Linked DNA regions of Homo sapiens: regions 1, 2, 3, 5 and 6 are each linked to region 4. Evidence: fine-mapped expression QTL. A gene starts in region 4. Each other region holds a variant in brackets. All regions are shown on one strand. Distances are between the middles of the regions.

Region 1 (5,058 bases), 25 kb after region 4:
CTGGCCTGGTAGGAGCCAGCATCTGGTTCCCAGCAGCAGCTTGGAAACCCAGCGACAGAAGGGGCAGGAACTGCACCCTGAGTCTGCAGAAGAGGCTGCTCTTAATGGTCCTCCATGCTGGGCCCTGAGCCCAGGTGGGGCCTGGCCAGCTCCTCATCACAGCTGACCAGCCCTGGGAGTTCCAACTCCAGGAGACCTGGGCTCTGAAGTCCCTGGAGCCAGAGACCCTCTGGGCACGGGACCAGAGGCAGTGTCCTCCCACCTGGAGTCCTGGGGGGTCCTCCCGCTTGGCGAGTGCTGCCCCCCTTGTTGCCCGAGTGTTGACAACAGCCACAGATAGTGCCCACGTGCCCGTCCATGCTGCGGGTAGCTGGCCACAGGGGCGTGGAGATGCGGTGTCAGGGACAGAGCAGGCTGCTGCGCAGGTCGGGGCTGTCTGGGGAGCCTCGGAAGCCGCTCGGTCTTGCTCTGGGGACAGGAGGGGCAGGTGGAGGGGCCCTGCATGGGCTTCCAAAGCCCCTCCCAGCCCTGTGAGGGGGAGTTCCATGGAGTAGTAGGAGCTCCGCAGGGTGGGGCGGCTGGAGGAAGGGCTGATGGCCAGGAGGGGCCGTGGGATGGGGGTGTCATGCCCACTCTGAACTCAAGCCCCAACGGTGTCTCACAGGCCAGGCTTAGCCTCCCCACTGCATCACCAGCCCTCGGTGGTGGCAGGCACCCTGGGAAAGAGCCGTGAGAGCCAGCTCCCTGACAGCCTGGGCGGGAGGTTCCGGGCCCCAGGCACAGATGCCATCTCCCTTGGCAGGCCTGGCAGGGCGGGGCCTTCTGCGGTGACCTGTGGTCCCATTCCCAGGCTCCTCCTGTGCTTGGAAACTTTCTGGAGCAGGGAAGAGACTCAGCCCAATGCCCTGGGAAGCACCCTGCATGGCTGAGAGGTCCTCGGGGAACAGACCAGTGGGTAGAGAGAGCTGTGTTTGCTCCAAAGGCTGGGCGGGTGGCAGGGGGTGGGGGACTGGAGGTTAGAAGCTGGCAGGTGGAAAGGATGGGTGTTCAGGGGAGTATTTCACCAGACTATGCAAGGTGCGGACTGCGCCGTGAGGTCAGGGTGGGTCAGGAGAGATGGGAGGCCATGGCTGTGTTCAGGAAGTGGGCAGTTGGCCCAGGGAGCTGCCCAGGGCCTGACTACCCCCATGCACCCCCCAGGGACCATGCTGGGCCTCTGCGCCTCTGTACAACCACTGCTCCGAACTCTGGGACCCACGGTCGGCGGCCTCCTGTACCGCAGCTTTGGCGTCCCCGTCTTCGGCCACGTGCAGGTTGCTATCAATACCCTTGTCCTCCTGGTCCTCTGGAGGAAACCTATGCCCCAGAGGAAGGACAAAGTCCGGTGACCGCTGCCCAGACACAGACTGGCAATAAACTCCTACTAAATCCCTCCGACCTCTTCCGGCCTGGTTTCTGCAGGCTCACGCATGGTCTGCCTGCGTCCTTCAGTGAGGGATGGGGCCTCGGGCTGGAGGGCTTCCTCAAGGAGGGCGCCTACAGCTGGGCAAAGCTCTGGGGAGGACAGAACCACCCAAATTGGTTCACTGTTATTAGTACAGCCCTGAGTCCGCCCATGGAGGAGGTCCCCCTGCTGCCACACAAACAGCTCTTGCTCACATCCCAAGCAATGGCGAGCTCACTGCCCAACTCCCGCCCACAGTGTGCCTGCCCAAGAGCAGAAACAGGTTGCTTTAAAAGATCAGGGAACCTGGCTGGGCGCAGTGGCTCACGCCTGTAATCCCAGTACTTTGGGAGGCCGAGGCGGGAGGATCATGAGGTCAAGAGATCGAGACCATCCTGGCCAACATGGTGAAACCCCGGCTCTTCTAAAAATATTTTTTAAAAAATTAGCTGGGTGAGGTGGTGCACGCCTATAGTCCCAGCTACTCGGGAGGCTGAGGCAGGAGAATCGCTTGAACCCGGGAGG[C/T]GGAGGTTGCAGTGAGCCAAGATCCCATCATTGCATTCCAGCCTGGCAACAGAGCGAGACTCCATCTCAAAAAAAAAAAAAAGATCAGGGAACTGAGGCCTTCCTAGATGGAAGGAAAAATGCCCTCATTCTGCTGAACAGTCCAGCACACAGACCCAAACCCTGGTCGCAGAACTGTACCAAGGAGGCTGCCAGCCACCCGAACCCCAGAACCGCACCAGACACTGCCAGCCACCCGAACCCCAGAACCGCACCAGACACTGCCAGCCACCCGAACCCCAGAACCGCACCAGACACTGCCAGCCACCCGAACCCCAGAACCGCACCAGACAGTGCCAGCCACCCGAACCCCAGAACCGCACCAGACACTGCCAGCCACCCGAACCCCAGAACCGCACCAGACAGTGCCAGCCACCCGAACCCCAGAACCGCACCAGACACTGCCAGCCACCCGAACCCCAGAACCGCACCAGACACTGCCAGCCACCCGAACCCCAGAACCGCACCAGACACTGCCAGCCACCCGAACCCCAGAACCGTACCAGACACTGCCAGCCACCCGAACCCCAGAACCGTACCAGACACTGCCAGCCACCCGAACCCCAGAACCGTACCAGACACTGCCAGCCACCCGAATCCCAGAACTGCACCAGACACTGCCAGCCACCCGAACCCCAGAACCGCACCAGACACTGCCAGCCACATGAACCCCAGAACTCCTCTGGTGTCCCCTTATCTCAGCCTCTTCATCCTACAGCTCAGTGGCCCCCAACATTTTCCGCACCAGGGACCAGTTTTATGGAAGGCAATTTTTCCACGGATGTGGGTGGGCCAGATGAAACTGTTTCACCCCAGATCATCTGGTATTAGATTCTCATGGGGAGTGCTCAACCTTGATCCCTCTTGTGCACAGTTCACAACAAGGTTCTCGTCCCTGTGAGAATCTACTGCTGCCGCTGATCTGGCGAGAGGTGGAATTCAGGCGGTCATGCTTGCCCCGCTGCTCACCTCCTGCTGTGCGGCCCAGCTACTAACAGGCTATGGACCAGTACCCATCCATGGCCTGGGAACTGGGGGTCCCTTCTATAGCTGATTTGCTGGCCAGGCCATGTACCGTTGCCTTCCCAGCCTCCTGACCACAGCACTTCCCGACCCCTCACCCCCACCCCCTGGTCCTGGGCTCTGGGGAGGAGAACTGGGCATGAGGAGGCCAGCCCAGCCGCTGTGACCGATTGACCCATCTGGAGAGGACAGGCTTTCCACAGCCTCAGCGAGGGTCTGCAGCTGCCCCTGAGACCATGAAGGCCGCCCCTCCTCTCCTCGGGCTGCTTTTAAAAGAAGCTGTTGAAACATGGACTCCCCAAACCTTAGAATTCCACTGTCCTCAGAATTTGAGGAATTCCAAAATTCCTCAAACAAGAAGTGGCCTCAGTGAGCCAAGGGCCATCCACCCTCTTCGCCTAAAGCTCAGGCCGGATCATGCCTATGCTTGAAGCACCCAGGGGCAAGGGCTCTCCTCTTGACCTTGGATATCCATCCAGGTGAGGCTCTGGTGGGCCAGCCAGGAGGCCCAGGAGCCCAGCCAGGCAGCGTCCTTGGCTGCTGTTTTCTGCTTTTTGCAGGAGCCCCTCCCCGATCTGCACAGGGGCTTCACAAATTGCGTTCGGGAGAAACTTCCTTGCAGGCAATAGTTTCTTCTGGACCTAGCACCAAGACTCCTGCGGGCCATGCAGCGAAGGGATAGCACCCTCCCCGCCCTGAGCCCAGACCAGCTACCAGGCTTCGTCGGCCTCCTAGCAACAGAGATTAGGGTCCAATTCTGGTACTTCTCTGCCTCCCCTACTGGCATCCCTCCAACCACGAAGGTTCCAGAAATGAAGGCCCCATTGTGGGGTGAGGAGTCATGCCTGTACCCCTTATCACCTCCTCAGCTTGTTCATCACCAGGAGCCCTTCTGGGTGGGGGACACACTTCCTGAACCCTAACTGTCTCAGACCATCCCTGTCTTTCAAAGAGCACAGCCAGACCGGAGGGCAGAAAGCCGTGGTCAGCTATCTCAGAAAGAGGGGCAGGGATTTGCTGCACTCAGGCCTCTCCACCCCAATGTCCTGGGCCAGTACCTGGAGGTGCAGGGACCTCTGCCTCCTGCCCCACCATCGGAGACAGCCCAGAACTCTCTCCTGTTCCCCCAGAAGCAAAGGCGACCCTGCCCGCCCCACACTGCGGGCACTGGCAAGGAGCGGCTGGCGGCGGGCAGCCAGAGGGCTGAGGGATTCCTTCTGGTCTGACTGCGCGGGTGGTTTGTGGGCAGGAAGTGCTGCTGGGGAAGGTTCCCCCACCACAGGCAGCAGCAGCTCGGACCCAGGGCCCTTGTCCTCCCCAGGTTCAATTCCTCAGGACACACCAAGGAGCAGAAGGTAGCCAGGGTCAAGCCCCAGGGCACTTCCTGGCCTCTGGGGAGGCTGCTTGGAAAAGAGGGTGTGGACCAGGCCCAGCAGATGACACGATTCATTTATTCATTCAAAGCCGGTTCCCAGCGCCTTTCACACCAGCCCCGCAGGACTGGATGAGGGTGTCCTGCCCGCCCATTCCTGGGCCTCCACCCTCCCAGCAGGAGTCTCACTGAGCCACAGCCGGATGGTAGAAAAGCAAACTGGCCAAGTGATTTATTTGCAATGGGCACAGTGATGCAAAAACAAGATATTAAGACTATAAAATATGTGACTACAAAGAACCAGCGAAATAAATACATAGATATTAGATAGTCCAATAACTTAAGGCGCCCGTGCAACGGAGCGAGGATCCGCGCGCACGGGAAGTTCTTCTGCTGCAGGGCTGGAGAGCGCCGGCCACGTCCTAGCCTCGGTCCGACTCGTCCAGCGTATGGCCCTGTGGGGAAAGGACTGGGTCAGAGAGCTGTGCCAGGGCCGGTCCGGGTCCAGCCTGAGGGGCCCCGAGACCCTGACGCGAGGGGGCCAGCGCGATTGCGGGGCGCCGGGTCCCCCAAGGAGGTGCAGCGCCCCCGCCCCGCCGTCTGGGGTTGAAGTGGTTTTTCCCAAAGGCCCCGGTCCCGGCTGTTAGGGCGCAGG
Region 2 (5,070 bases), 31 kb after region 4:
AGGGCCGCCCAGAGACCCTCTCCGAAAGTGGCCCTGCCCTAGCGGACCGAGCTCCTATCTTGCCACCCACGGGCTGCGCCAAGAACGACCACCTCTCTTAGCCTCGGTTTTCGCTTCTGTGAAATGGGAACAGTAACCTTTGCTGGATTAGGGAACACGTGGAAAGGGCTAGACCAGCAACCCATAGAGCTCAGAAAATGGAAGGGGAAGAGGAAGCCCGTTCTCCTCCCTGCGCCCTCGTAGTGTCCCGAACTGGGGTACGGACTGCTCCGACCGCGCCCCCACGACCCGGACCGGAGAGAGGTCCCAGGAGCTGAGGGGTTCGGGCTGGGCCGCGACGCCCGCTCTCTGGGATCAGCCTGGGGGCGAGGGTCGGCGGGGGCGGCTGAGTCATCGCTTTCCAGCTGGGCAGACGGGCGGTTTTATTTACCCTCTTCCTTTAAAGGGTTTAATAGACAGGAAGCGAAAGCCGGCTCTTCCCGGGTTCCCAGGGGTGGGGGTGGAGCCGGCCGAGAGGACCCCAGAGACCCCGGCTACTACTCCACGTCTCCCACCTTCCCGCACCCCTGCCCCCTAGCTGCGCCCTGGGGTGGTTACAGCAGGAAGTCCCAACTCTGGGGTCAGAATTGGCCTCAATGACGGGGCTCACGCAAAATGAAAACGAGAGTCCCCTGATTCAAAATGTATTTAAAATGTCAAGACAGTGGCAGCAGAGCGTAAAACCCAGACCTGGGACCAGCCCTACCTCCACCTGCCCTTCAGGGTCACTGTAAAGGATAAAGAGACGTCCGGCTCAGAGGAGCGCCCCAGACCCGGTTCTGTGAATGGCATGCAGGTAGCAGCTGCCCGGTGGTCCCACCGGTGTGGCCAGAGGACCTGGCAGTGGGCAGGGATGTGGTGTGGAGGGGCAGTGCCGGCAGAGGGCAGGGTTGGGCTGTGCCAGGGTTCTGGCCTGGGAGTGAGACACCTGCCTGGGGCCGGCGGGTCAACACTGCCCCCTACCTGACACCTGTCCTTGCAGCAGGGCTGGGATCCTGTGGTGAGGGAGCAGCAGGTAGGGTGGGTGGGTGAGGGGAGGTCAGCCTTTGGCGGGGAGAGGGGATTCGAGCATTGTTCCGGAGAGGCTGCAGGAAGGATTCGGACTCTGGTGTCCCTTCTTTTGCTTCCAGAGGGCCCTGGGCTGCCGGACAGTGGGACCTGGGCAAGAGGCACCTCTGGGCAGTGGGAGACCAGGAGAAGCGGCCGGGGGCAGAGCGCTCTGTCACTGCGCCAGCCCACAGGTGCCTGGAACACCTCCAGGCCCACCAGCCTGCCTACCCCATTGAGGGGCCAGCCAGTGGAACTTCGGCTCCAGGCAAATCCCCCGACACTCGTGGTTGCTTAAGCACCTACTGTGTGCCTGCAGGCCTGGCTGGTGCTGGGACCCCAGAGGAGGGGAGAGGAATCCCTCTAAACCCCAGGGGCACAGCAGGTACATGAGGATGGGGATAGGGGTCGGGGGTACTGGAGGCCAGGAGGACAGCTTGGAGGACTCTGTGGGGAGGGCGTGCCCTCGAAGATTCCAAGGAGACCTTGAAGGGCCAGTGGTGCCCGTATGCCACCACTGTGCCCAGCCTCCACCTAACCCAGAGAACTCCCCAAAGTGGGCACTCCAGCCCCTGTTCCACAGAAGAGGAAACTGGTTCAGGATGGAGAGGGCCTTGGGGAAGGGACAGAGAACAGGCAGGAGCAGATAAGGGGCTGAGAGAAATGAGGGGGAGGAAGAGGGTTTGGAAACCAGGTGAGGCCAGGTGAGGTGTGCTCCCCCAGCCCCGCCCAGCTCCTCTCTTTGCCTGTACCCCAGTGGCCCTCTCAAGGGAGGCTGGGAAACTCACTCCCCTGGGGGCAGGACTTACAACCCAGGGGTGATGCTCTGACAGGTGGGGCAGGAGCTGGGAGGCCAGGGGGCAGGGTGTGCAGCCGAGATTCAGAGGCCCTGCCCTCCCTAGGGGATTTCCTGCCCACTCAGCCCCTCTCTGCTATTCCCCTCATGGACACTGTGAAGACCTGGGGGGTATGGGGGTGGATGGCCCTTTAGGGGCTGCTGGAAATCAGGTCTGAGCCCTGGAGGCCAGGCCTCCCCAGGCAGCTTCTCTGCCCACAGTCCCTGCCCCAGGGGCTCAGTTGTAGTGGCCCTGGCCTCCCCAGCAGCTGCTAGACACCCTGGGCCCCTGCTCGGCCAAACCAGCCTGAACCTGGTTGCCAATGTGGGGGCTGGAGGGAGCCGACTCCCAAGCCTTACCAGCCCTGGACCAGCAGGTGACTTCAGGAGCCCCCAGGGTGTCTTTATGGACATGGGCAAAAATAAACCACGGCCTTAGGAGGTGAGAGGGGCTTGGAGGACACCATGCCAACTTGGCAGGTACTTGCACACAGGGGCTGCCCCATCCTCTCTGCGTCCACCATCCACCCGAGGGGCTTTACCACCACCACTAACTCACACTGCC[G/A]TCTGCCCCTCTGAGCCACCCGCCCTCTGCCAGCCCCCGCTCGGCCTCCCTTGCCTGAGGCCTGAGCCTCACCGCCTCACCTGGTCCCACCTGGGGCTGAGCGGTGCCCCCAGGAGAAGCACTGGCCCCAAGCTGCAGATGCAGAAAGGGTGGCTCAGAGAGGTGCAGTGACTTGTCAAGGTCACCTTTCCAAGGAGGGACCCTATCTCTATCCCCCAGAGCAGGCCTGCCTGAGGGTCCCCTCTGGAGGATGAGGGCTGTGACACTCACTTCCTGGGATGTGGGGGAGGGATGTTGAGGCAGAAGAGTGCTGACACAGGGACCCCACATGAGGGTCTTTTGAGGAATGCCCCTCCTAGAGCCATTTGATAGCCAAGAGCCTGGGAGCTTCTCCAGCACAGCACAGAGATTGGAACCCGGCGTGGATTCGGCCACACCCCATGGGACCTGCTTCTACGAGGGTTCTGGACCACTCACGTGCTGGAGGCGGAGGAACCACCTGCCGGAGAGATGCCAGGGCCAGGCACCGGCAGGAGAGTCCGTGTGGCCCTGCCCCGTGCTAGTTCTGTGCGGTCATTTCTCCCTGTTGAGACTGCTTTCTTGGGTTTGCAGGGAACACTGGGTGGGGGTTTCAGAGAGGTGGTGACTCACCCAGGTTACACAGTGGCCAGTGCGGCCACATCCACAGCTTCCCCGATTCTGTGGCACCCTGTGGCTCGGGGCAGGAAACAGCCCTGATGTTCTGTGACTGCTTCTCAGGATGGGGAGGGGGCTCTGCCTCGAGTTGGTGGTGTCAGGCAGCATCAGTCCAAACCGGGTTTACTGATATTTATCTGAGGGGCCACATCCAGGATTCATGCAGAGCCTGAGCCAAGGGCCCCCACCCCTGGGCAGGCATTGTACAGTCTGGGTGCCCAAACATCTGGCCTGGGACACTGGCTGCCCTGTCCAGCTGCCTGGACCCTTGGCACCGGAGCCCAGCTGTGTGAGGCTGTCAGCAGCTGGAGTAGGATGCGGGCACCTCTCCGAAACTCCCTGAGTGAGGTCACTTCCTTACGGTGACGAGGCCGGGCCCTCCAGGCACTTGCCCAACGAGCCTGGCCATCCTGCCAGCCTGTGAGGAAGCTGCGTGTCACAGGGCCCGGCCCAGTGCCTGGGGCTTGACACCACCCTCTTGTGGGAGGGGTTGCTCAGAGAGAGCCCTGCAGAAAGGCCCACTGCTCCTCAGTCAGGAAGGCCCACCCCTAGCTCCTCTCACCCCCTCCAGGAAGCCCTCTCAGATTGCCAGGGCGCACTCTAAGGCCTGCCTCCTGCCAACCACATACTGCTAGGCCATGGGTCTCCAAGCCTCCGCCCACCTGAGCCTGGGGAGGCTGGGGGAAGACCTAAGCTGCCTGGAGCTGCAGCACCTGAGCAGTGCACTGGTGCCACCTCACCTGAGCCCAACATGGCCCATGTGCCAGGGCCTGTGACTCAGGCTTGCCCTCTATCTGTCTCCTCCCAGCTGCAGCCTGAGGAAAGTGAGAGGCCCCGTGGCATGACCCACCTGGTTTTCAGACACTTGCTGTCAGCCTGATCTTGGCCTTGGAGGGCTGTGTTCTCTGTTGCTGTGTCTCTTCCTGAGCTCTTCCACTGGAGCCTGACAGGCAGGTCCTACCTCACAAGATGTTGGGGATTGATTGAGAAACCAGGAACACCCTTCTCCTTGGCCCCTGATGAGCTCCTGTTTATCCCTCAGTACCCTGCTCAGAAGCTATTATCAGCTCCTTAAATGCAGTGATAATGTTTTATTCTTTGGGAGCCCCAGGGATCAGCCCAGGCACTCAGGAAATGGCTAAAAAAGCATCCTGAGGCCGGGCTCGGTGGCTGACGCCTATGATCCCAGCAAGTTGGGAGGCCGAGGTGAGCAGATTGCTTGAGCCCAGAAGTTTGAGACCAGCCTGGACAACACAGCAAGACCCCCCCATCTCTACAAAAAAAAAAATAAAAATTAGCCAGGCATGGTGGCATGTGCACTATAGTCCCAACTACTTGGGAGGCTGAGTTGGGAGGATCACTTCAGCCCAGGCGGTCGAGGCTGCAGTGAGCCGTGATTACTCCACTGCACTGCAGCCTGGGTGACAGAGCAAGACCCTGTCTCAAAAAATAAAGGCATCCACGTCATTGTCCAAAAGACCCCCTCTGCACTGACTACTGAACGTGCAGACTGTTGGCGTGTGTATGAGACCAGACAGCCCCTTGCTGCCTCGGGTGAGACTGGCAGTCAGGCGTGCCAAGATGAGGGGGCCCCGTGGGGCAGAGTGGGGCCTCCGTCGGGCTCCATCAGGCTGGTGTCACCTCCACAGGGCTGCTTGTGGGTGGTTATGGAGCCTCCAGAGGTTGGGAGATGGGGCCAGGACACAGGGAGCTCAGGAAAGGGCCCTCCCAGCAGTCACTCGCAGATGGAAAACAAGAGCAGCCAACATGACCGCCCTGCACCTGGCTTGTGGGGATGTCTCCAGAAGCTTGAAGGAGTGAACCAATGAACAAAGGAACAAACAAAATACAGGAAGGGAGAGAGGGAGGACTGAGGTGGCCCCATGCC
Region 3 (5,070 bases), 37 kb before region 4:
AGGGGCGAGGACCGGATGGGGGCAGGGGTAGGGTTCAAGGGGCCAGGGTCCCAGGGGCTCTCCTGGAGGCTGCAGAGGAACCCAGCCTGGGTGGGGGGCTCCGACGCTCCACAGCCTGTCCTGGCCCGGCCAGGCCCGGCCCGGCCCGGCCCCCTGCCCAGTCGCGGCACTGCCCGGCCCGACCCCCAGACCTTCGGGGTGCCCAGTCCGAGCCTGGGCCGCTAGGGGCCGCGGGCCTGGCGGGCGGGGCGGGGGCCGGGGTCGGGGGTCCGGCGAGCTTTAATGCGCGCACAAAGCCTCATTTGCAGGTCAATGCCGCGGCACACTCGCCTCTCCCCTCGCCCGGCGCCCTTTGTCCGGCCGCGCCCGCTCCTCGCGCCAGATGGCCGCGGAAATGCTAATTTCGGGCGCCCCTGCCCCCCCACCCCCGCGTTTAATTGCGCCTTTGCAGATGGGCCGCGAGTGTGCGCTTCATGCAGATGAGCGCGGCCTCGCCGCCTTCCTCGGACCTCCGGGAGCCGCGGCCGGGCGTGCTGGGGCCGAGGGCAGGGAGGGGGCCGCTGTCCCTCCACTCGACGCGCCGCCGGGCACGGGCGGGCACCCAGCGGCCCGGGCCCGGGAAGCGCGCTTCTCTCTTTTCATTTCTCCAAAATGGGATCTTAAGTGATTCTGAATGAAAACAAATTGGCCCGCTTTCTTCTCCAAACAGACGCGCGGCGCGGTGGGGGCGGCGGGCGCGGGCCCGGGGCGGCCCGGGCGGTGGGGTTGGCTCCGGGACCCCCTGCCCGGCCCGGCCCTCGCGCCTTCTCCCCGCGGCCCGCCTTCCTCAGCCCTGGGCCGGCGGCACTTGGAGGCGGCCGGGCAAGACGGCAGACGTGGGGGCCCCTTTAACCGGAGCCAAGGATCCCCGGACTTTCTGACCAACCAGGAGCAGAAGCCCGCCAGGTCACCCTCGCCTTTCATGACAGAAACAGATTCCCAGGCTGGTCGGAGCGCAGAAATGAGGCAGGCCAGGGCCGGCCTCCGCCACCCCGCCCATCTCCAGCCCCAGCAGGAGCCTGGCCCAGGCCTCTGGCCCCACAGCGCCAGGGAGCATCCTCCGGGAGCCCAGGCCTGCCTCGAAGCCTAGGGCTGGGGCAGGCTGGGCAGAGTGAGGGAGGGAGGCAGTTTCTTTGTGATGTGTCCACTTTACTAGCAAAATTTCAACCACAAACTTAGAAAACCTATACATTGGTGGGTGATTCACTTGCTCCACCACCAGCGATGAAACAGAGACAGAGCCACGTTCTGGGTAAGTAAGAATACTCCCAATACAAAACTCAGCCACAGACCTTTAAAAAGAAAAGGGTGCCGGGCGCGGTGGCTCACGCCCGTAATCCCAACACTCTGGGAGGCCGAGGCGGGAGGACTGCTTGAGCGCAGGAGTTCCAGTCCAGCCTGCACAACCTGGCGAGGTCGCATCTCTACAAAAAATCTTCTGATTTTTTTAGCCAGGCGTAGCGGCGCGCCTGTAGTCCCAGGAAGGATCACTTGAGCCTGGGAGGTGGAGGCTACATAGAGCCATGACTGTGCCACTATACTCCAGCCCAGGTGACAGAGTAAGACCCTATCTCAAAAAAGAAAGAAAAAAAAGAGAAAGAGAAAGAAAGAGAGAAGAAGGAGGAGGAGGAGGAGGAGGAGGGAGGAGGGAGGAAGAAAGGAAAGAAAGAAGAAAAAGAAAGGAAGAGAAAGAAAGAAAAAGAAGAGATAAAGAAAGAAAAAAGAAAGAGAAAGAAAGAAAGAAAGAAAGAAAGAAAGAAAGAAAGAAAGAAAGAAAGAGAAAGAAAATCATCTGTTCCTGAAACATTCTGTGATACTTTCGTAATTTGCTCAGCCAGAGGACTGAAAGTGCAGGCGGATCCCTCAGCCTTGGGCTCAGCTGGGACTGAAGTCAGCTGACAGAGTGAATCTGGCCCAACTGCCACCAGTCTGACTCTGGCACCCTGGCCCTGGCGTGACCTTCACAGCCGCACCCCCCACCCCCCACCTCCGCCTCAATGCCCACCCTCCAGCTCCACATCACTGAGCCTGCCCTGCTGCGCCCTTGCACGGGCACCCTGGCTGCCAGCTCTCCTCCACCCATTCCTCCTCTGAGTGTCCTCAGGCCCCTCAGGGGCTGCTCTTCCCTGGACACCCAGGAGCCTCAACCTTTGCCCTGTGCCACACCTCCCTCACCTGGCTCTTGAAAGGAGTCCCATCCACCTTCCCCTCAGGGTGAAGCTCAGGGCCTGGCCCACACCCCTGCTGGTACTCAAGGCCCACCTGGGGGACCTAATGGGGGGTTCCAGTAGACACCGAGGCCGAGGCCGGAGGGCTCAGCCACCCTTGTCACCCATCCT[G/T]CAGGGCACTGTCTCATGGGTGCCAGCACAGTGACATGCCGTGGGCTGGGGGAAGCTGGCTCATAGAATATGCACGGCCAGGACGCACCGTGGAAATTTCCATGGTCACGGGATGGAAACCATTTCCTATCAATAAAATAACAGGTGCCCCGTCAGAATCCCCCTTTCATTTCTTTCCAGGAAACAGTTCAAATGGGATGGTTACACCCATTTGAGACAAACATCTCTTGGTCCTAACCCCTTGTGGTTGCTTCATTAACCAGAGGCCTCCATCTTCCTCTGGGGAAGACAGTGCAGCCCAGCTGCCCTCCGCCTCCAAACCCTCCCTGGGCCCTGAGGTGCCGTGTGGACCCACTGCTGCAATCGCCATGTTCACCCCACACTCGAGGGTAGACCCAGAGCATTTGAACTGTCCTCGTACTCCCTCGGCCACTTCTCAACAACAGCGCATTCCCAATCCTGTAACCTGGGGCCTTTCCCTAACACATTTAAAAGACGCCAGCCGCCTTCTCCCGCCCTAGCACTGTCACCAGCTGCTTGTACTCAACTCTCTGCCAAACTGTTACTTTGTTTATCACACTCAGATTACGGGTCTCTTGAACAGTTTGTTATGGTTAAATACTTTCAATTAAAACAGTATATGTTTGTGTGTGTGTATACAAATAGATAGACATTCTAATACTTTAAAATAGGTACTTTGAGCTGGGCACAATGGTGCACACCTGTAGTCCCAGCTACTCCAGAGGCAGAGGTGAGAGAATCTCTTGAGCCCAGGAGTTCCAGTCCAGATTGGACAACATAGCAAGACCCTGTCTCTATTAAAAATATACCTTTATGCCAGATGCCTATAATCCCAGCACTTTGAGAGGCCGAGGCAGGAGGATCACTTGAGCCCAAGAATTGGAGACCAGCCTGGACAACATAGGGAGACCCTGTCTCTACAAAAAAAAAAAAAAATTAAAGATTAGCTGGGCATGGTGGCACACACCTATGGTCTCAGCCACTCGGGAGGCTGAGGTGGGTGGAGGGCTTGAGCCCAGGCGTTGGAAGCTGCAGTGAGCCATGATCGTGCCACTGCACTCCAACCTGGGTGACAGAATAAGATCCTATCTCAAAAAATATTTTTTAATTAAAATAAAATATGTGCTTTGGACTTAAAAAGTAAATGTGAGTCCCATAGATGTAAAATGATATAGAGCCCCAAAGTGCCATCTGCGCTTATCTCAGGATAGCAGCATCTATCTGGGGGAATTTTTACTGTCTTTTTTATACATTCCCATATTGTTTGCATTTTTTTTTTTTACAATGAGCATATGCTGCTATTTCTACAACCAAGGGAAATATATGGCTATTTTCAATTTGGAAATCAAAAGAAATAAAAAGCCCCACTGGCTTGCCAGCCCTGTGACCTGGGTGCTGTAGCAATAATGCCTGGAACTGGCCCCAGCCGATGAGGGACCCCAGCCACAGCCCATGCCAGAGTCCACTGTCAGGACCATCTTACGAGAGGGGCTGCCTCAGAATGGAGTCCTGGGGGCACCTCAGTAACTAAACCCCCTTGGATGGAAGCCAGGCCAGACCCACTCAGTGCCAAATTCCACTCGGGCCTGCTCTCAGTTCCAGCAAAATTCCAAAGTATATTGTTGTTATCGTTATTATTTTGCAATTACGTGACATTTTTTAAATGCCTAGACTGTTTTCTCAGCCATTTTCATTAGCTCCTTCTCACTCTGCCCAAGAGACACTTCAGCATTGTGTCTGCCACTGGGCAGGCTGGCCAAGGCTCAGAGAGGTCAACTAACCTGCCTAGGTTGCACAGCAACAGAGCAGCGGGTGCGAGAGCAGACGTCAGGGCTGGGCCCAGGTCATCCTGCAGAGCTGGGGGGTGGGTCTCGCTGTTGGGCCCTGTTGGGCTTTTATTCAGATTTAGGAATTTCTTGGGGGGCGGGGGCAGGGGCAGATTTGGGAAAGAGAAGAAAAAGTAGGAACGAGAGAAGAGAGAAGAAAAGGCAAGGAAAGCCCAAGGCCGAAGCAAGAGAGCAAAATAAGCAGAAGACACCACGGGTGTGGGGCTGGCAGCACCGCACTGAGAGCCCCTGGCAGGGAACCAGCCCCTGGAGGTGCCCCTGCCTTCTCCCCACAGCCTGGCATGGTGCCGGCTTCCAGAGGAGCCTCGTTTCTCAGTGAGGGGGGCGGGAGGGGGTGAGACAGCATCCGTGTCTAGACGCTTATCCTTTGAGGAGAATACCAGGGTCCCCAAATGCCACTTGAGATCTCTCTGAAATGCAGGAGGCCCTGGAGCCTGCATTTGTCATCAGCCTCAGTCACCACACCTACCCCCAGCTCAGGAGCAGGTGCCACAGCTCAACCTGGCTCTCATGCTGAACCAGGTCCCCAGAGGTCTGGACATTGCCACTCACCAGCAGGCATCCCGGGCCACAGGGCAGGACGCCCAATCTGGAAGCCCAGTGTTATGGGAGGAATCGTATCCCCCAAAAATCATATGTCGAAGCCCTCACCCCCAGCACCTCAGCACATGACTGTATGTGGATACAGGGTTTTACAGAAAACAGTTAAAATGAGGCCATTGGTGTGGGCCTAATCCAACAGGACTGGGGTCTTTATAAGGAGAGGAGGACACAGGCACACTCAGAGGCATGACCCTCCCAGGACACAGGGAGAAGGTGACGTC
Region 4 (5,060 bases):
CTCTCATTCGGGAGACCCCTCAGAGGTCCCAGCCTCCAGGATGCAGTGTTCAGAGCAATACTTCTCAGTGCACGTCTGGCTGTGTCCCTGCCCAGCGCTCCCAGGGTCACCCCTCTCTCTAGACTCACTTTCTGCCCCGTCACCCCACTGTACACCCTTGGTCCCAGCCCCTTCCAGTGGCTCAGCTTCCTGAACACTCCAAGCCTGGGCTCACCTCTAAGCCGTTATCTATGCTATTCTCTCAGCCAGGATGCCCTTCCCATACCCAAACAATCCGTGCTCACCTTTAAGACTGGCTGAGGCATCACCTCCTCTGAGAAGCCACCTCTCCCAAACCTGAGCCCAGATGAGCCAAAGCCCTTCCTTCCTCCAGTCAGCCTGGATCCTCTCATCCGGCAGAACTGTCGCCTTGCTTCTCTGAAGCGGTGAATGCCCTGGGGCTGGGGACGCACAGGCTCGCTGGCCCACAACCAAAGCCGCTTCCTCTGGAGGAGGAAGTCCAGGGGTGCCAGGGTTCCACTTGCTTTCTTCTTCACCCAGCCTAAAGGGCAATTTTCCCACATTCCCTCAGAACCAGGAAGTTCCCCCATTCACACTGAGCCTGTTCATGACAAAAAAAAAGGTCTCTCCGATTTCCTCTGCTCAACCAGTTCCCTGGCTACCTGAGGCCCTGCTTCACCTGGAGGAAGACAGTGGTAAGTTTCCAGCATCTCCACCACACCTCAGCGCCAGAGGACCCTCAGCCTCCCTCGCACACCTCTGGGCAGTTTGGTAACTCATCCCATCTCCTCCTGCCGCTTCATCCTCTAAGCCCTCCCCAGGGAACCCAGGAGGCGTCTGGAACCTGTTGGGGACAGTCCCTCACACCTGCCCCATTGAGTAAGGGTTCATGTGGATGCCCATCCTCCCCCAGGAGTCCCAAATCTAAGACACTCTGAGACTCCTGTCACCCACCCCCACCTTACACAGCCGGCCTTTCTGTGCAGTCCTTCCAGGAAACTCTGGCTGGACCTGGGCTCTCGGCTTGACTGCACTCTCCCCAAGTCCCCAGGGCGGCCAGTGGTGACTATTCTTGAAAACGAGCTTGGCAGAGGATCTGGGGACACGCACTCCAGATGCAAACACGTTTGCACTCTTTGGGCTGGAATCCCCTCGAGCGGTACACTGCACCCGTGGGCTTGCTAAGAAACCACCTCACAGAGGGCAGATTGATTGGACAAAAGGCATTTGGTCCCCAAATTGATTGACGTGTGTGAATGGGAGTTTTCAGAACAAAGACCCAAAGATATGGGGGAAACAGGCTGGGCGCGGTGGCTCACGCCTGTAATCCCAGCACTTTGGGAGGCCGAGGGGGGGCGGATCACGAGGTCAGGAGATCGAGACCATCCTGGCTAACACGGTGAAACTCCGTCTCTACTAAAAATACAAAAAAATTAGCGGGGGCTGTGGCGGGCGCCTGTAGTCCCAGCTACTCGGGAGGCTGAGGCAGGAGAATGGCGTGAACCCGGGAGGCGGAGCTTGCAGCGAGCCGAGATCGCGCCACTGCACTTCAGCCTGGGTGACAGAGCAAGACTCCGTCTCAAAAAAAAAAAAAAAAAAAAAAAAAGATATGGGGGAAATTGCCATTTCTGATGCTTAGGCTCAACAAAGTATGGACATCCATGCGGGAACACAGATGAACCAAGGGACCTGCACTAATGCTCCTGGACCGCAAGGGGAAGCGCAGCGAGGGCTGTTGGTCTAGATTTCTTGAACTTTCTGAGCAGCATTCCTTCCTTCTGGGCATGGAGCAGGACCCTCCTGGAATGGGGTCTTATGCCCTACAGTCAAACAAGAGAGGTCAGATAATTTATGGCCAGCTTCTAAACACAAAGGTGGAGGGAAAGTTAGAGCAATATTTTTAGGTTTGATGTCTGGCTGTGTGGAAAGGCGGGGTTCTGATTTCTATGACCTGCCCTGGGGAAAATGGATTCCAGTTTCTAAGGCCAGCTTCGGGGAAAATGGCACTGAGAGACAGGAGAGCAAGAGAAGGTCAGAGAAACACTTTTTCTTCCGAAGCTGCTTCTGAGGCCTTCATTTTGGGGTATTGTTTTCTGATGCCCAACATATCTGAGCTGCTGAACGAAGGGTAGCTGCTGAACCACTCCCACGGTGACTTGGAATGGCTTAGCCAGCCGGCCTTGGGCCACCTGGCTCTGGCCCCCCTGCCCACCAGGACTTTGGCCGGCTCTCGCTCGCCTCTGCGATGTCCGTCCCACCCTGTCTCACCCCTGCAGTTTTCTGCTCTGTGGAGCGATGATTGACACATGGCAGGGGGACACTGGTTTTGACATTTGAGCCTGTGCCCAGCCCTTGCCTGGGGAGGAGGTGGGGCAGGAGTCCTGAATGAGCATCTCCCTACTTAGTGACAGTCAGGGGCACGGAGAATGGTGCCCAGGCCAAGGGCAGGGCTTGGGCCAAGTGTGCGCAGCGTGGGGTGTGTGTGCTCCAGCGGCTCCTGCTGCGGAGGGCGGCATGAGGCTTGTTTACCTGTGTGCTGGCATCTCTGGTGGCCCCTGCAAGGGTGGGGAAGTGGCAGGCAGGGTGAAATGGGGAAAAGTGGGCTCTCAACTGCTCCTAGCAGCCTCCGGGTCTGGGGAGGGAAGTGAGGAGGGGCCCAGAGCTGTCTCCTGGTCACTCTTCTGGGGCTCTGTGCAGACCTTTGGCAGGGCCAGGCTACACCACACCCTCTACAACCTCCCCTGACTTCTTCCCCTAACCCCTCACCACCATTCCTCCGCTTTTCTCTCCCCGCCCCTGCCTCCCCTCCATTCTCTCCTTCCCTCCACCTCCCGGTCCCATCCCCTGCCCACACTGCCCCTCCTCAGGCCCAAAGTGGACACCGGTGCTGCCTGAGGGTCAGAGTGTCCACCTCCAGCAGCCCGGGCACCGGGCAGGATTCAAGCTGGAGGGGGCTGGGGCGGGCGAAGCCGGGCACGGGGCGAGCCCGCTGGTGGGCGGGGCAGGGGCGGGTCCTTCGAGGGGAGGGGCGGGCTCGGCCAGTGAGAGCGCAGAAACCGTGGCACGGGCGCTCCCGGAACTGGCGATTGCAAAGCGCGAGGGCTGGAACTCAGACCCAGAGGGGCGGTCCCTGTTGCAAGTCATCTCCCGAAAGGGCGGGGCCGGGGCTCATCCCGGAAGGACCGGTGTCTAGGTCACCCTGGAGCGCTCACCCCACCGGCACCCGTGCCCAAGCCCGCCCCTGCAAAGGCAGGTACTCGAGCACACTCCGGAGAGGGCGGCCTCTGAGCCCCGAACCCCGAACTCCGGCGCAGCGTCGCACCTCTGCCCAATGAGGTGCCCCTGACGTGCCTGCTGCGGCTGCCCTGCTCCCCCCAGCCTCCCTGCATCCCGGGATGGGGGAGGGCGCCAGGCGCAGCTCCCGGACCCTCAGGGGTCTCCCCGCCCTACCCCACCAGCCTGGGTTCGGTACCTCGGGGCTCAGATGTGCAGTCAGCTGTTAATGTGGCAAAATTTGGGGAAGTCCTCTGCAGCCGCAAAATCCAGTTCCCACCAGTTGGAGGCCGGGCGGGGAAGGGTGGGGACAGACAGCACTCCGCTGTGGGAGGTAAGGCAGAGCTACTGGGGAGCCTGGAAGGCTGAGCTATGTCTCCCCTACGCAAGACCATTCCAGAAGCCCCTTGGAGCTCTGGCTGCTGGCCACAGGGGAAGGTAGACCTTCCCTGAGAGCTGCACTGTGTTGGGGACAGGGCCACTGTGGGCCTACGGAGGGCCTCCAGGCACAGGGACCCACATCAGCCCTCTGGCCACAGAAGGCGCTGATGATTTGAGGTGGACTCAGCCACCACTCCGAGCCTCTGCCTCCCTCTAAAAGTGGGGCATGGCACATTCCTGTGTCAGGCAACCAGGCACTGAGCCTGGCCCACCTGCAGGGGTCGGGGGGAGCAGCTTGTCCCTGTCTCCCCTCCCCGGGAGGCTGTGTGCCTGGAGACCAGAGCTGTCAAAAGTGGAGGAGGGGGACCCCCTGATGTGTCCTCTAAGGTCCAGGTAGCAGGAGAGCTCCACTGGGGAGGGGGTCCTGCAGTGCTGTCCTCTCTTGCAGGCAAGGCCAGGCGGGTGCTGCCTGGGACCCAGTGACTCAGCACCCCTGCCCGGATCAACTGGACTTTTGCCCCCTGCTCCGCCAGCCTCCTGCTTGGATCTCTCCTGGGTCTCCCTGCTGCGCCTGTCCAGGATGCAGGGAGCTCGGGCTCCCAGGGACCAGGGCCGGTCCCCCGGCAGGATGAGCGCTCTAGGCCGGTCCTCGGTCATCTTGCTTACCTACGTGCTGGCCGCCACAGAACTTACCTGCCTCTTCATGCAGTTCTCCATCGTGCCAGTGAGTAACACACCCCAGCCCCTGCAGCCCCAGCCAGGGCTGAACCGCTGTTCCTCCTGCCCTCCATCTGGGCCGTCGCAGAGAGTGGGGGTGGGGGTTTCATGCTGCCAGGGCCCCTCCCAGTTGGGACTCATGCCACGCTTAAGCTGAGTAAGTTAAGGACTCTGCCTCTGGACCCCCGTCAGCACATCCTGTGCTCCAGCTTCAGTGCCAGCCCCGGGAGAAGCCATGGGGAGCCACCCCACTTCCCTCCTGGGGGCAGCACCTCCTCAAACCTTCCTAGCGCTGTTCCTCCTGCCTCTCACCCGGCAGCCTTTGCCCTCTGGAGTCCCTGCCCCAAGGGCTGTTCAATCCGGTGTGGCTCTGGGCGGATCACCCCTCAGAGAGGCTCTCCTTGCACCTGCCCGCAGCTTCTATCTCTCCCCTCCATCTTCTTGGGTCCTTGTTGTCCACTAAATGATCTGTGGCGGCAAATTGATCTCAAGCTTTTTCTTGCAAGAGATAGAATGCTGTCTTATTTTATTATCTCTGTTGCCAAATGCGGAAACATTTCATTGGCAAATTCATGTTAGTTTAGTGTATCATTCAGTAGTCTATACCACAGTGTGTGGCTCTGGAAGCTGTAATAGTAATGATTAAATTATATTCACCAAGTCTGGAGAGGCTTGGGAACAAAGTCTCA
Region 5 (5,070 bases), 110 kb after region 4:
CAGTTTCACCACTGTGGGCAGTCCTGCAAAATAAACTGCGTGTGAGAAGAGTCTGGGCTCTGTGGGCCGTCCCCACTGCGGGGCCAGCCCTGCCCTGCCCTGCCCTGCCCAGACCATGCGGTGCTGCCCAGTCAGAGCGAGGGCCCACAGGAGAAAAACAAACAAAAACCTCCATAGCAGCAGTGAAGCACAGGAGAACATTTTGGTTTGTGTGTGTGTGATTTTTTTTTTTTTTTTTTTGAGACAGAGTCTTGCTCTGTCATCCAGGCTGGAGTGCAGTGGCACGATCTCAGTTCACTGCAACCTTTGCCTATCGGGTTCAAGCAATTCTCGTGTCTCAGCTGCCCAAGGAGCCCACACCCAGCTAATGTTTTGTATTTTAGTGGAGACGGGGTTTCACCATGTTGCCTAGGCTGGTCTCGAACTCCTGAGCTCAGGTAATCCACCCACCTCAGCCTCCCAAAGTGCTAGGATACAGGTATGAGCCACCACACCTGGCGAGAACATTTTGTAACGAGAAGGTAGGAAGGTCTTGCCAGCCAGGAGTAGGAAAATAGGACATGACATCTGAGATTTAAAATTACCAGGGGCAGAGTGGAAGAGTGGAATTGGAGGGTTCGTAACACAAAGAAATGATAAATGCTTGAGGTGATGGACATCTCAGTTACCTAGATTTGATCATAGTACCTCATACGCATGTATCCAAATATCACACATAGCCCATAAATATGTACAACTATTATGTATCCATAAAAACTGAAACTAAGGCTGGGCATGTGGCTCATGCCACTTTAGGAGGCCGAGGTGGGCAGATTACTTGAGGTCAGGAGTTCGACACTAGCCTGGTCAACACAGTGAAACCCCGTCTCTACTAAAGATACAAAAATTAGCCGAGCGTGGTGATGGGCGTCTGTAATCCCAGCTACTCGGGAGGCTGAGGCAGGAGAATCGCTTGAACCCGGGAGGCAGAGGTTGCAATGAGCCGAGATCGCGCCACTGTACTCCGGCCTGGGCGACAGAGCGAAACTCTGTCTCAATAAACAAATAAATAAAAATTGAAAATAAAAAACAAAAAAATTAACTTTCTGTGGAACAAAAAGACCTCCACGAAGTGGGAGAACAAGCATGCAATCTGTTGACAGTGTACAGGATACAGGCTGGTTCCTCAGCTGAGAGCTTCAAAGGCGGTAGCAACAGGGGCAGCGGGCAGCCAGGCCCCTAGGGGAGATGATGCGCAGGGGAGGTGACACCACCACACGCAGCAGTGGGAAGGAGCTACGGGGTGCTCCCCTGCCCCTGCCAGGCTGGCCAGCGTGGGAATGGCGCCGGGGGACCCATGGGGCTGCCACTTTGGGATTCTGCATCAGCAATCATGAAGCATGAGCCTCAGCCCAGCCCCGGGAGCTCTCCTTGTGACACCTCTCCAAGCTCCTGGTAACTTTGTAGCAAACAGCAAGGGCTCACCCACCTTCGTGGTCTTCAAACCGCACCCCAAGCTCGGGCAGGATGTTGTCCCGCAGGGCATCGCTGAGCTGCAGAATCTCAGGGACTGTAGGAGAAGCAGAGCAGTTCCCTCAGACATGGAGGAGCCAGGGCCCACACAACCAGTGCCTCCTCCAGTGCTGGGGAAGGAGGGGCCGTGGCCCACAGAACAAGTGCCTCCTCCAGTGCTCAGGAGGGAGGGGCCCCGGCCCACAGAACGAGTACCTCCTCCAGTGCTTGGGAGGGAGGGCCCAGCAGCTTGATTGGCTGCAGAAGCCCAGAGACTAGTGTCTCCCGTAAGCCCAGGGGCTGTTCTGGGGGTGCAGGGCAGAGCCAGGAGGAAGCATAGCACACTGGCCGCCGGAAGCAGTTCTTCCAGGAAAGGGACACAAGTTGGGCCGACAGCAGGGGTGGGAGGGTCAGGACAGGCCTGGGGGTCCCTTCGGGTGCTAACACTCTTCATCTGAGGCAGCCTCTCTGTTGGTGCCAGAATCAGCTTTCTTACAGAAGGACCATTTACACTCAAGCCCCAAGGACTTGGTTCCCAAATGCACACGGGACTGCGATGGGGGTCCTGACCGGCACCCAGGAGAGCTGAGTCCCAGGACCACCAAGGAGCTCGAGCTCTGTGAGAATCAGCCCTCCCAGGGCTGAAGCGCACGCAGCTGTAAAGGCGGGGCTGAG[C/T]GGTGGGGGTGGACCGCAGGTTGCTTCCCAAGACTGTGCTCACCTCTGCCTCTGACTGGGGACCTGACCCAGCTGGGAGGGTGAAAGGAGGCATGACAGGGAGGGCGACTGTGACCTCCATCACATGGGGAGGGAGCTTCGCTTGGAAACCCATGTGTCTGTGGCTGACTTCAGAGCGCAGCAGTGCAGACTTGCCCGGCATCCCACGGTTCTCCTAGTGGGCTCCTCACGCAGTCTCTAGCAGGCGCCCCCTCTGTGTCTCTGCTCTGCCCGAGTTTTCCCGTTCCCAGCCCACGCACAACGCCCAGGTAGAGAACAGGACATAAGAAGTTTTGGGTGTTACAGGGTAAATGGGATGCCAACCTATCTCAGAAAGACTCCAGAGTATCAGGTGATGTGACAGCATCTCCTAGACTACATCAACAGGACAGATGCTTGCTGCTCTCCAAGTGACAACTTTCTGCTCTGAAATCTGACCTTGGGTTTGCTGGAATCACCACACCCTTTAGTTTTCTTCTGGCCCCTCAGCTTGCTGCGCCCAACTGTGCTAGGCGGGCAGGTGCCCTGCCCCCCAGCCTGCTGGGACCCCCACCATCCCACCCCATCCTCCTGCCTGCCCTGCCTTTGGGCAGCACTGACCATGCACATGCTGCCATTCTCGTCTGTCCTTTTCCTGCTGTGTCCTCATAACTGAGACCCCTAGAGCTCCTTGCTGGGCACCCCACACCTTCATTCACTGCTAGATAAAATATTCACATATCCGGGCAGGCACGGTGGCTCATGACTGTAATCCCAGCACTTTTGGAGGCTGAGGCGGGTGGATCACAAGGTCAGGAGATCGAGACCATCCTGGCCAACATGGTGAAACCCCATCTCTACTAAAAATACAAAAACTATCTGGGTGTGGTGGCATGTGCCTGTAATCCCAGCTACTTGGGACGCTGAGGCAGAAGAATCGCTTGAACCAGGGAGTCGGAGGTTGCAGTGGGCCAAGATGACACCACTGCACTCCAGCCTAGCGACAGGGCAAGACTCCATCTCAAAAAAAAAAAAAAAAAATTGCATATCCTTGGGCTTCAAGGCCGCGCTCATAAGCACAGCCACTTTGGGCAGCTTCCGGAGTTTCAACCTCCCCAGGCAGAGACCTAGGGGAACAATGGCCTTTATATTTGTCTGCAGTATCATTCCTGGGAACAGGCCCTCCTCAGCCACCTGAGGAGCAGCTGACTGGGGCATGAGCTGAGGTAGGTGCCTGCCCTTCACTCTTTGAAAGCCACCCCTGGATAGCACCCTCATTAGAAGGAAGGCAAGCCAGCACCTGTGGTCACTGTCACGGGTGTCATGGGAGGCCACAAGGCCAGCACCCCAGCCCACCCGCCATGGGTGATCATCAGAGCAGGCACCAAGAAAGCCTCCCGGGCCACACTCCCTGGGGGAAAGGGACACACGCCGTACCCCTCAGGCCCACACCGACCTCTGGGTCTGGATTCTGAGGAGCTGAGGAAGAAGCCTCTGTGGCTTCTGTTAGCAGAGCTGGGGCAGAGGAGCAGACAATGACATCATCATCAGGGATTTACTGAAGAGAAATGTGGGCTACAAAGATAACGCAAAGGTGATGAGAATTCTTCCATGGAAGAATAGACAGATCAGGGCCCATCCATCCATGGAATATGATTTGGCCATTAAAAAGGCAGGAGGTCCTGACACAGGCTGCAACATGGATAGACCTGAGGACACCGTGATCAGCGAAATAAGCCAGACACAGGACAAACACTGTGTGACTCCACTCATGTAGGGTCCCTGGAGTAGTAAAATCCAAAGAGACAGAAGTAGAGGGTGAGCACCAGGGGCTGAGGGAGGGGATGTGGAGTTGCTGTTCCATGGGGACAGAGTTCCAGTTTGGGAAAAGGGAAGAGTTCTGGAGATGGACGGTGGCGGCTGCACAACACTGTAAATGTCCCTAATGGCACTGAGCTGTGTATTTTAACATAATGAAAACAAAACCGTGGCGATGGGGAAATGGCATCATCTCCCCAGTGCAGAGGGCCCTGGCCCAGCCCCTGGCTTTCTCACTTCAGTGCCTCTCTCCTGGTCAAACCCTGAACCCATTGCCCTCCTTGCCAGGCCTGTGCTCTCTAGCTGACTGGACCATGGGGGTATTTCCAGGGGAAACAGTTTCTTTTTCGTCTGTCTGTGGAGCATCTGGCCTGGGCCAAGCAGATCCCAGCTGATCTGAGGGCCACCCCTGAGCTTGTTATACACTCACTTTCTCTTTGGCCAGCCATGAGATGTTAACAGTGAATAACAAAACAGTCACTATTTGCTGCTGCTGGGGAGACAGGGTGATTGCACCAGAGCCACCTCTAACACGCTGCCCCGTCGGAAGGTCTGAGGCCCCTGGATCCCCAGGGTCTCTGGCTCACAAGGCACATATGGGATGATGTACAGGGTAGGGATCACCACCATCTTAACCTGGGGCCACATCACCCATCTACCTGCTCCAAGCCACAAAACAAAAGTGAAAAGCAAACAGAAAGCAAAACCGAACTACTTCCAATGCTGGCTGGCTGGTGCCACTCTCCAGGCCTGAGCAAGTCCTGTCCTGGTCAGTGCCACCGAGCGGGAGCTTGTGCCTGGCCAGTCCCCCTTTAGCGCCCTCCCGGGGCTGTGGCATGCCAGGGAAGCCAAGGCCACGTGCACAGTCTTGTATGACCCCAGGGAGCTGGGGCCCGGGCTCGGCCTTCGATGTCCCCCAGAAGGCAGGTGGAAATGCCCAGGCGACCTCCAGGAATGGTCTTCCCAAGCCCACGACCCCAGCGATGCCGCTAAGTTAGTGCTGCCAAGATTGCTGGAGAGCCCTGCGCTGGTCCTGAATAGGCTGGTCCAGGCTTGGTTCAGTTTGAT
Region 6 (5,070 bases), 280 kb before region 4:
ATCTACTCAATTGGCAAAAATTCCAAATGCAATATACTAACTATTCTCATGTTCTACATGAGATCTCTAGACTTGTTCATCCTATATATCTGCTACTTGGTATCCTTTGACCTACATCTTTCCATTTTCTTCCCCCACACCTTGCCCATGGTAACCACTAGTTTATTCTATCTCTGTATATTTGACTTTTTTCTTTTTAAGATTCTACATATAGGTGAGATTATTTAAAACTTTTCATTTGTATATGGCTTATTTAACTTAGCACAATGTCTTCCAGTTTCATCCATGTGGCAAGTGGCAGGATCTCCTTTTTTAATGCGGAATAATATTCCATTGTAGACATACACACCACAGTTTAGTCATCCATCAATGGACACGTAAGTTTTCATATCGTGACTCATGCATATAATGCCACAATGAATATAGGAGCGCAGATATCTTTATGAGGTGGAGATTTCATTTTCTTTGGGAATATACCTAGAAGAGGGATTAGTGGGTCAGATGATAGTATATTTTCAATTTCTTTAGGAGCCACCATTCTGTTTTTCATTATGACTGCACCAATCTACAGTCCCACCAACACTGTACAAGAGTTCCCTAACCCTAGCCAACACTTAATAGCTATTCTCATGAGTGTGAGGTGATATCGCATAGTAATTTTGATTTGCATTTCCCTGACGATTAGTGATGTTAAATGTCTTTTCATATATGTGTTTGCCATTTTTATAACTTCTTTGCAAAAATGTCTACTCAGTTCCACTGCCCATTTTTTAATTGGGTTATCTATTTTCTTGTTATTGAGTTGTATGCATTCCTTATAAATTTTGGATATTATCCTCTTATAAGATATATGGTTGGCAAATATTTTCTTCTAGTCCATAGGTTGCCTTTTCCTTTTGTTGACTGTTTCCGTTCCTGTGCAGAAGTTTTTTAGTTTGATGGTATACCAATTATTTGTTTTTGTAGCCTGAGCTTTTGGTGTGATCTCCAAAAAATCACTGCCAGAGCCATGTCGAGCTTTTCCCCTATGTTTTCTTCTGGTTGTGGGTTTTGGTCTTATGTTTAGGTCTTTTATCCATTTTGAGTTTATTTCTATGTATGGTGTAAGGCAGCGATATCAAATCTTTTGGCTTCCCGGGGCCACACTGTAAGAACAATTGTCTTAGGCCACACATAAAATACACTAACAATAACAACAGCTGATGGGCTAAAAAAATGCAAAAAAATTCAATGTTTTAACAAAGTTTACAAATTTGTGTTGGGCCTCATTAAAGCCATCCTGGGCTTACATGTGGTCTGTGGGCCATGGGTTGGACAAGCCACAGAACTGGGTTTCCTAACGTCATTTATGAGAGAGACTATCTTTCTGCATTGTTTTCTTCGTGTTCTTGTGGAAAATTGGTTGATCATATATCTTTGAATTTCTTTCTGGGCTCTCTATTCTGTTCCACTGGTCTACATGTTTGTTTTTTATGCCAGGACCATACTGTTTGATCAATAGTTTTGTAAAATAAACCAGAAAGTATGAAGTCTCCCTTTGTTTTTCAGAACAGAATTTTCAGAATTTCGTTGGCTACTTAAGGTTCTTGCTATTCCAAATGAACTTTAGAATTTAAAAAAATTTTCCATGGGATTTTGATAGGGATTTTATTCAATCTGTATATTGATTTGGATATTATTGACATTTTAACAATATTATTCAGATTCATGAGCATGGGATATCTTTCCATTTATTTGTATCTTGTTTAATTTCTTTCATCAATGATTCATAGTTTTCAGTGTACAGGTCTTTCATCTTTTTGGCTAAATTTATTCCTAAGCAATTTTTTTGATGCTATCATAAATGGGATTGTTTTCTTGATTTCTTTTTTGGCCAGGTCATTATTTGTGTATAGAAATGCAACTACTGTTTTATATTGATTTTATATCCTACAACTTTACTGAACTCATTTATTAGTTCTAACAGGTTGCTTTGTCAGAGTCTTCGGGGTTTTCTATATGTAGGATCATGTCATCTTCATATAAAGATAATATTACTTCTTACTTCCTGATTTGAATGTCTTTCATTTCTTTTTCTTGTCTGTTTGGTTGTACTAGTACTTCCAGTACTATGTTGAGTAGTAGTAGCTAGAGTGGGCATCCTTGCCTTGTACTGGTTCATAGTAGAAGGGCTTCTGTTTTCCCTCATTGATTATAACGTTAGCTGTGGGCTTTTCATAAATGGCATTCGTTATATTGAGGAGTGTTCCTTCTATACCTGAACTGTTAGAATTTATCAACAAAGGATGTTCAACTTCATCAAATACTTTTTGTGTGTCAATTGAGATGATCATGTGGTTTTCATCTTTCAGTCTGTTAGTATCACATTGATTGCTACATGTATATTAAATAAGATTTGCATGCCAGAAATTAATTCCACATAGACATGATATATAATCTTTTTGATGTATTGTTAAATTTAGTCTGCCAATATTTTATTAAGGATTTTTGCATCGGTATTCTTGGGTTATGTTGGCCTGTAGTTTCCTTTTCTTGTGATGCCTTTGGCTCACCTGGGTATCAAGGTGATGCTGGCCTCATAAAATGTGTTAGGAAGTATTCCCTTTAGCTGC[AT/A]TTTTTTTTTTTTGGAAGTATTCCCTATAGCTGCATTTTTTTGGAAGAGTTTAAGAAGTATTGGTATTCTTTGAATATTGGGTAGTATTCAGTCATGAAGCTATCTGGTCCTGGGCTTTTCTTTGTTTGAGGTTTTGGGGTTTTTTTAACTTTTATTTTTGATTTAGAGGGTATATGTACAGGTCTATATGTTGCATGGTATATGGAGTATACTGCATGATGATGAGGTTTGGAGTGTGGATAAGCCTATCACCCAGGTAGTGAGCATAGTACCCAATAGGTAGGTTTTCAGCCCACCTCTCCATTCCTCCCCCAAGTAGTCCCCAGTGTCTACTGATCATCTTTATGTCCATGTTTACTCAGTGTTTAGGTCCCACTTGCAAGTGGTAACATGCAGTATTTGGTTTTCTGTTCCTGCATTAATTTGCTTAAGATAGTGGCCTCTAGCTGCATCCATGTTGCTGCAAAGGACGTAAGTTCATTCATGTATATATATATATTTTTTTTTTTTATTTTTTTTTTAGACGGAGTTTCGCTCTTGTTGCCCAGGCTGGAGGGCAATGGCATGATCTCGGCTCACTGCAGCCTCCGCCTACCGGGTTCAAGTGATTCTCCTGCCTCAGCCTCCTGAGTAGCTGGGATTAGAGGCATGCGCCACCACGTCCAGCTAATTTTGTAGTTTTAGTAGAGACAGGGTTTTTCCATGTTGGTCAGGCTGGTCTCGAACTCCTGACCTCAGGTGATCCACCCGCCTTGGCCTCCCAAAGTGCTGGGATTACAGGTGAGAGCTACCGCACCTGGCCGAATTCATTCATTTTTATGGCTGCATAGTATTCCATGGTGTACATGTACCACATTTTCTTTATCCAATCCACCACTGATGGGCATCTAAGTGGATTCCATGTCTTTGCTGTTGTGAATAGTGCTGTGATGAACATACAAATGCATGTGTCTTTTTGATAGAACAATTTATTTTCCTTTGAATATATATCCAGTAATGGGATTGCTGGGTCAGATGGTAGTTCTGTTTTCAGTTATTTGAGAAAACTCCAAACTGCTTAGCACAGTGGCTGAACTAATTTGTATTCCTGCCAACAGTGTATAAGCGTTCCCTTTTCTCTGCAGCCTTCCCAGCAACTTTTATTTTTTTGACTTTTTAATAATTGCCATTCTGACTGGTGTGAGATGGCATCCCATTATGGTTTGGTGTTTTTTTGTTGTTGTTGTTTTGTTTTGTTTTTTTTTGTCTGTTTTTTGCTTTTTTGTTTGTTTGTTTGTTTTTTGAGAAAGAGTCTTGCTCTGTCTCCCAGGCTGGAGTGCAGTGGCGCAATCTCGGCTCACTGCAACCTCCACCTCCTGGGTTCAAGCAATTCTCCTGTCTCAGACTCCTGAGTAGCTGGGATTACAGGTGACCGCCACCATACCTGGCTAATTTTTGTGTTTTTAGTAGAGACGGGGTTTCACCATGTTGGCCAGGATGGTCTCGAATACCTGACCCCAGATGATCCACGCACCTCAGCCTCCCAAAGTGCTAGGACTACAGGCATGAGCCACCGTGCCTGGCCTCATTATTTGCATTTCTGATTATTAGTGATCATGAGAATGTTTTTTTGTTTGGCTACTTCTGTATTTTCTTTTAAGAAATGTATGTTCCTGTCCTTTGCCAATTCAATTGGATTATTCGTTTTTTGCTTGTTGATTGGTTTAAGTTCCTTATGGATTCTGGACATAGGACCTTTGCCAGATGAATAGTTTGCAAATATTTTTTCTCCCATTCTATATGTTGTCTGTTTACTCTGTTGATAATTTCTTTTGCTATGCAGAAGCTCTTTAGTTTACCACTGTGATCTCTTTGCTATTGGTCTGTTCAGGCTTTCTATTCCTGATTTAATCTTAGCAGGTTGGTTTTTTTCTAGGAATTTGTCCATTTCCTCTAGGTTATCCAATTTGTTGGGATATAATTGTTCATAAAAGTCCCTTATGATCCTTTTTATTTCTGAAGTACCTGTTGTAATATATTCTCCATTTTCATTTCTGATTTTGTCCTCTTTCTTAGTCCAAGAGTTTGTTGATTTTATTTTTCAAAAATCAATTCTTTGTTTCAAAAATTGAAGTCTTAGTTTTACTGACTTTTTTCCCCTATGGTTTTTCTTTCTAACTTGTCTCTGTTCTGATCTTTATTATTTCCTTCTGTTAACTTTGGCTTTAGTTTGTTCTTCTTTTTCTAATTCCTTGAGGTACAATTTTGGGCTATTTGAAATATCTCTTCTTTTTTAATGTAGGCAAGGCATTTATTGCTGTAAACTTCCCTCTTAGAACTGCTTTTGCTGCATGTTTTGCTTTTGGTATGTTGTGTTCCCACTGTCATTTGTCTGAAGATATTTTTAAGTTTCTGTTTTCATTTCTTCTTTGACTCTACCCATTACTGAAAGTACGTTATTGAAGTCCCTAAGTATT

The links.
Region 1: its variant is fine-mapped to the expression of SLC67A1 in blood mononuclear cells (TOPMed, PIP 0.98).
Region 2: its variant is fine-mapped to the expression of SLC67A1 in lung (GTEx, PIP above 0.99).
Region 3: its variant is fine-mapped to the expression of SLC67A1 in whole blood (INTERVAL, PIP above 0.99).
Region 5: its variant is fine-mapped to the expression of SLC67A1 in whole blood (TOPMed, PIP above 0.99).
Region 6: its variant is fine-mapped to the expression of SLC67A1 in memory regulatory T cells (Schmiedel 2018, PIP 0.95).

The regions. Positions count from the first base shown.
Region 1 is chr11:2,923,810-2,928,867 of GRCh38, forward strand. It overlaps SLC67A1 (solute carrier family 67 member 1), which reads left to right. Exons shown (of 11, transcript NM_002555.6): 11 at 1,201-1,437. The coding sequence ends at 1,388. PHLDA2 (pleckstrin homology like domain family A member 2) reads right to left here. Exons shown (of 2, transcript NM_003311.4): 2 at 4,464-4,858. Among named protein-coding and RNA genes, the nearest start is that of PHLDA2, 3.1 kb to the right of the region's middle. RefSeq lists an enhancer at 4,888-5,058. The variant C/T (reference allele first, on the strand shown) is at 1,970.
Region 2 is chr11:2,929,966-2,935,035 of GRCh38, forward strand. No RefSeq gene overlaps it. Among named protein-coding and RNA genes, the nearest start is that of PHLDA2, 3.1 kb to the left of the region's middle. RefSeq lists enhancers at 1-559, 3,574-4,186. The variant G/A (reference allele first, on the strand shown) is at 2,487.
Region 3 is chr11:2,862,198-2,867,267 of GRCh38, forward strand. No RefSeq gene overlaps it. Among named protein-coding and RNA genes, the nearest start is that of KCNQ1-AS1, 3.2 kb to the left of the region's middle. RefSeq lists an enhancer at 762-1,459 and a cis regulatory region at 4,959-5,070. The variant G/T (reference allele first, on the strand shown) is at 2,379.
Region 4 is chr11:2,899,112-2,904,171 of GRCh38, forward strand. It overlaps SLC67A1 (solute carrier family 67 member 1), which reads left to right and starts at 3,167. Exons shown (of 11, transcript NM_002555.6): 1 at 3,167-3,253; 2 at 4,103-4,378. The coding sequence starts at 4,235. SLC67A1-AS (SLC67A1 antisense RNA) reads right to left here and starts at 4,464. Exons shown (of 3, transcript NR_169305.1): 1 at 4,348-4,464; 2 at 3,473-3,598. RefSeq lists a silencer at 3,299-3,428 and an enhancer at 4,354-4,855.
Region 5 is chr11:3,005,411-3,010,480 of GRCh38, forward strand. It overlaps CARS1 (cysteinyl-tRNA synthetase 1), which reads right to left. Exons shown (of 23, transcript NM_001014437.3): 19 at 1,469-1,549; 20 at 1-23. Among named protein-coding and RNA genes, the nearest start is that of NAP1L4, 16 kb to the left of the region's middle. The variant C/T (reference allele first, on the strand shown) is at 2,167.
Region 6 is chr11:2,617,100-2,622,169 of GRCh38, forward strand. All of the region lies in intron 10 of KCNQ1 (potassium voltage-gated channel subfamily Q member 1), which reads left to right. It overlaps KCNQ1OT1 (KCNQ1 opposite strand/antisense transcript 1), which reads right to left. Exons shown (of 1, transcript NR_002728.4): 1 at 1-5,070. Among named protein-coding and RNA genes, the nearest start is that of KCNQ1OT1, 80 kb to the right of the region's middle. RefSeq lists a silencer at 4,103-4,182 and an enhancer at 4,935-5,070. The variant AT/A (reference allele first, on the strand shown) is at 2,613.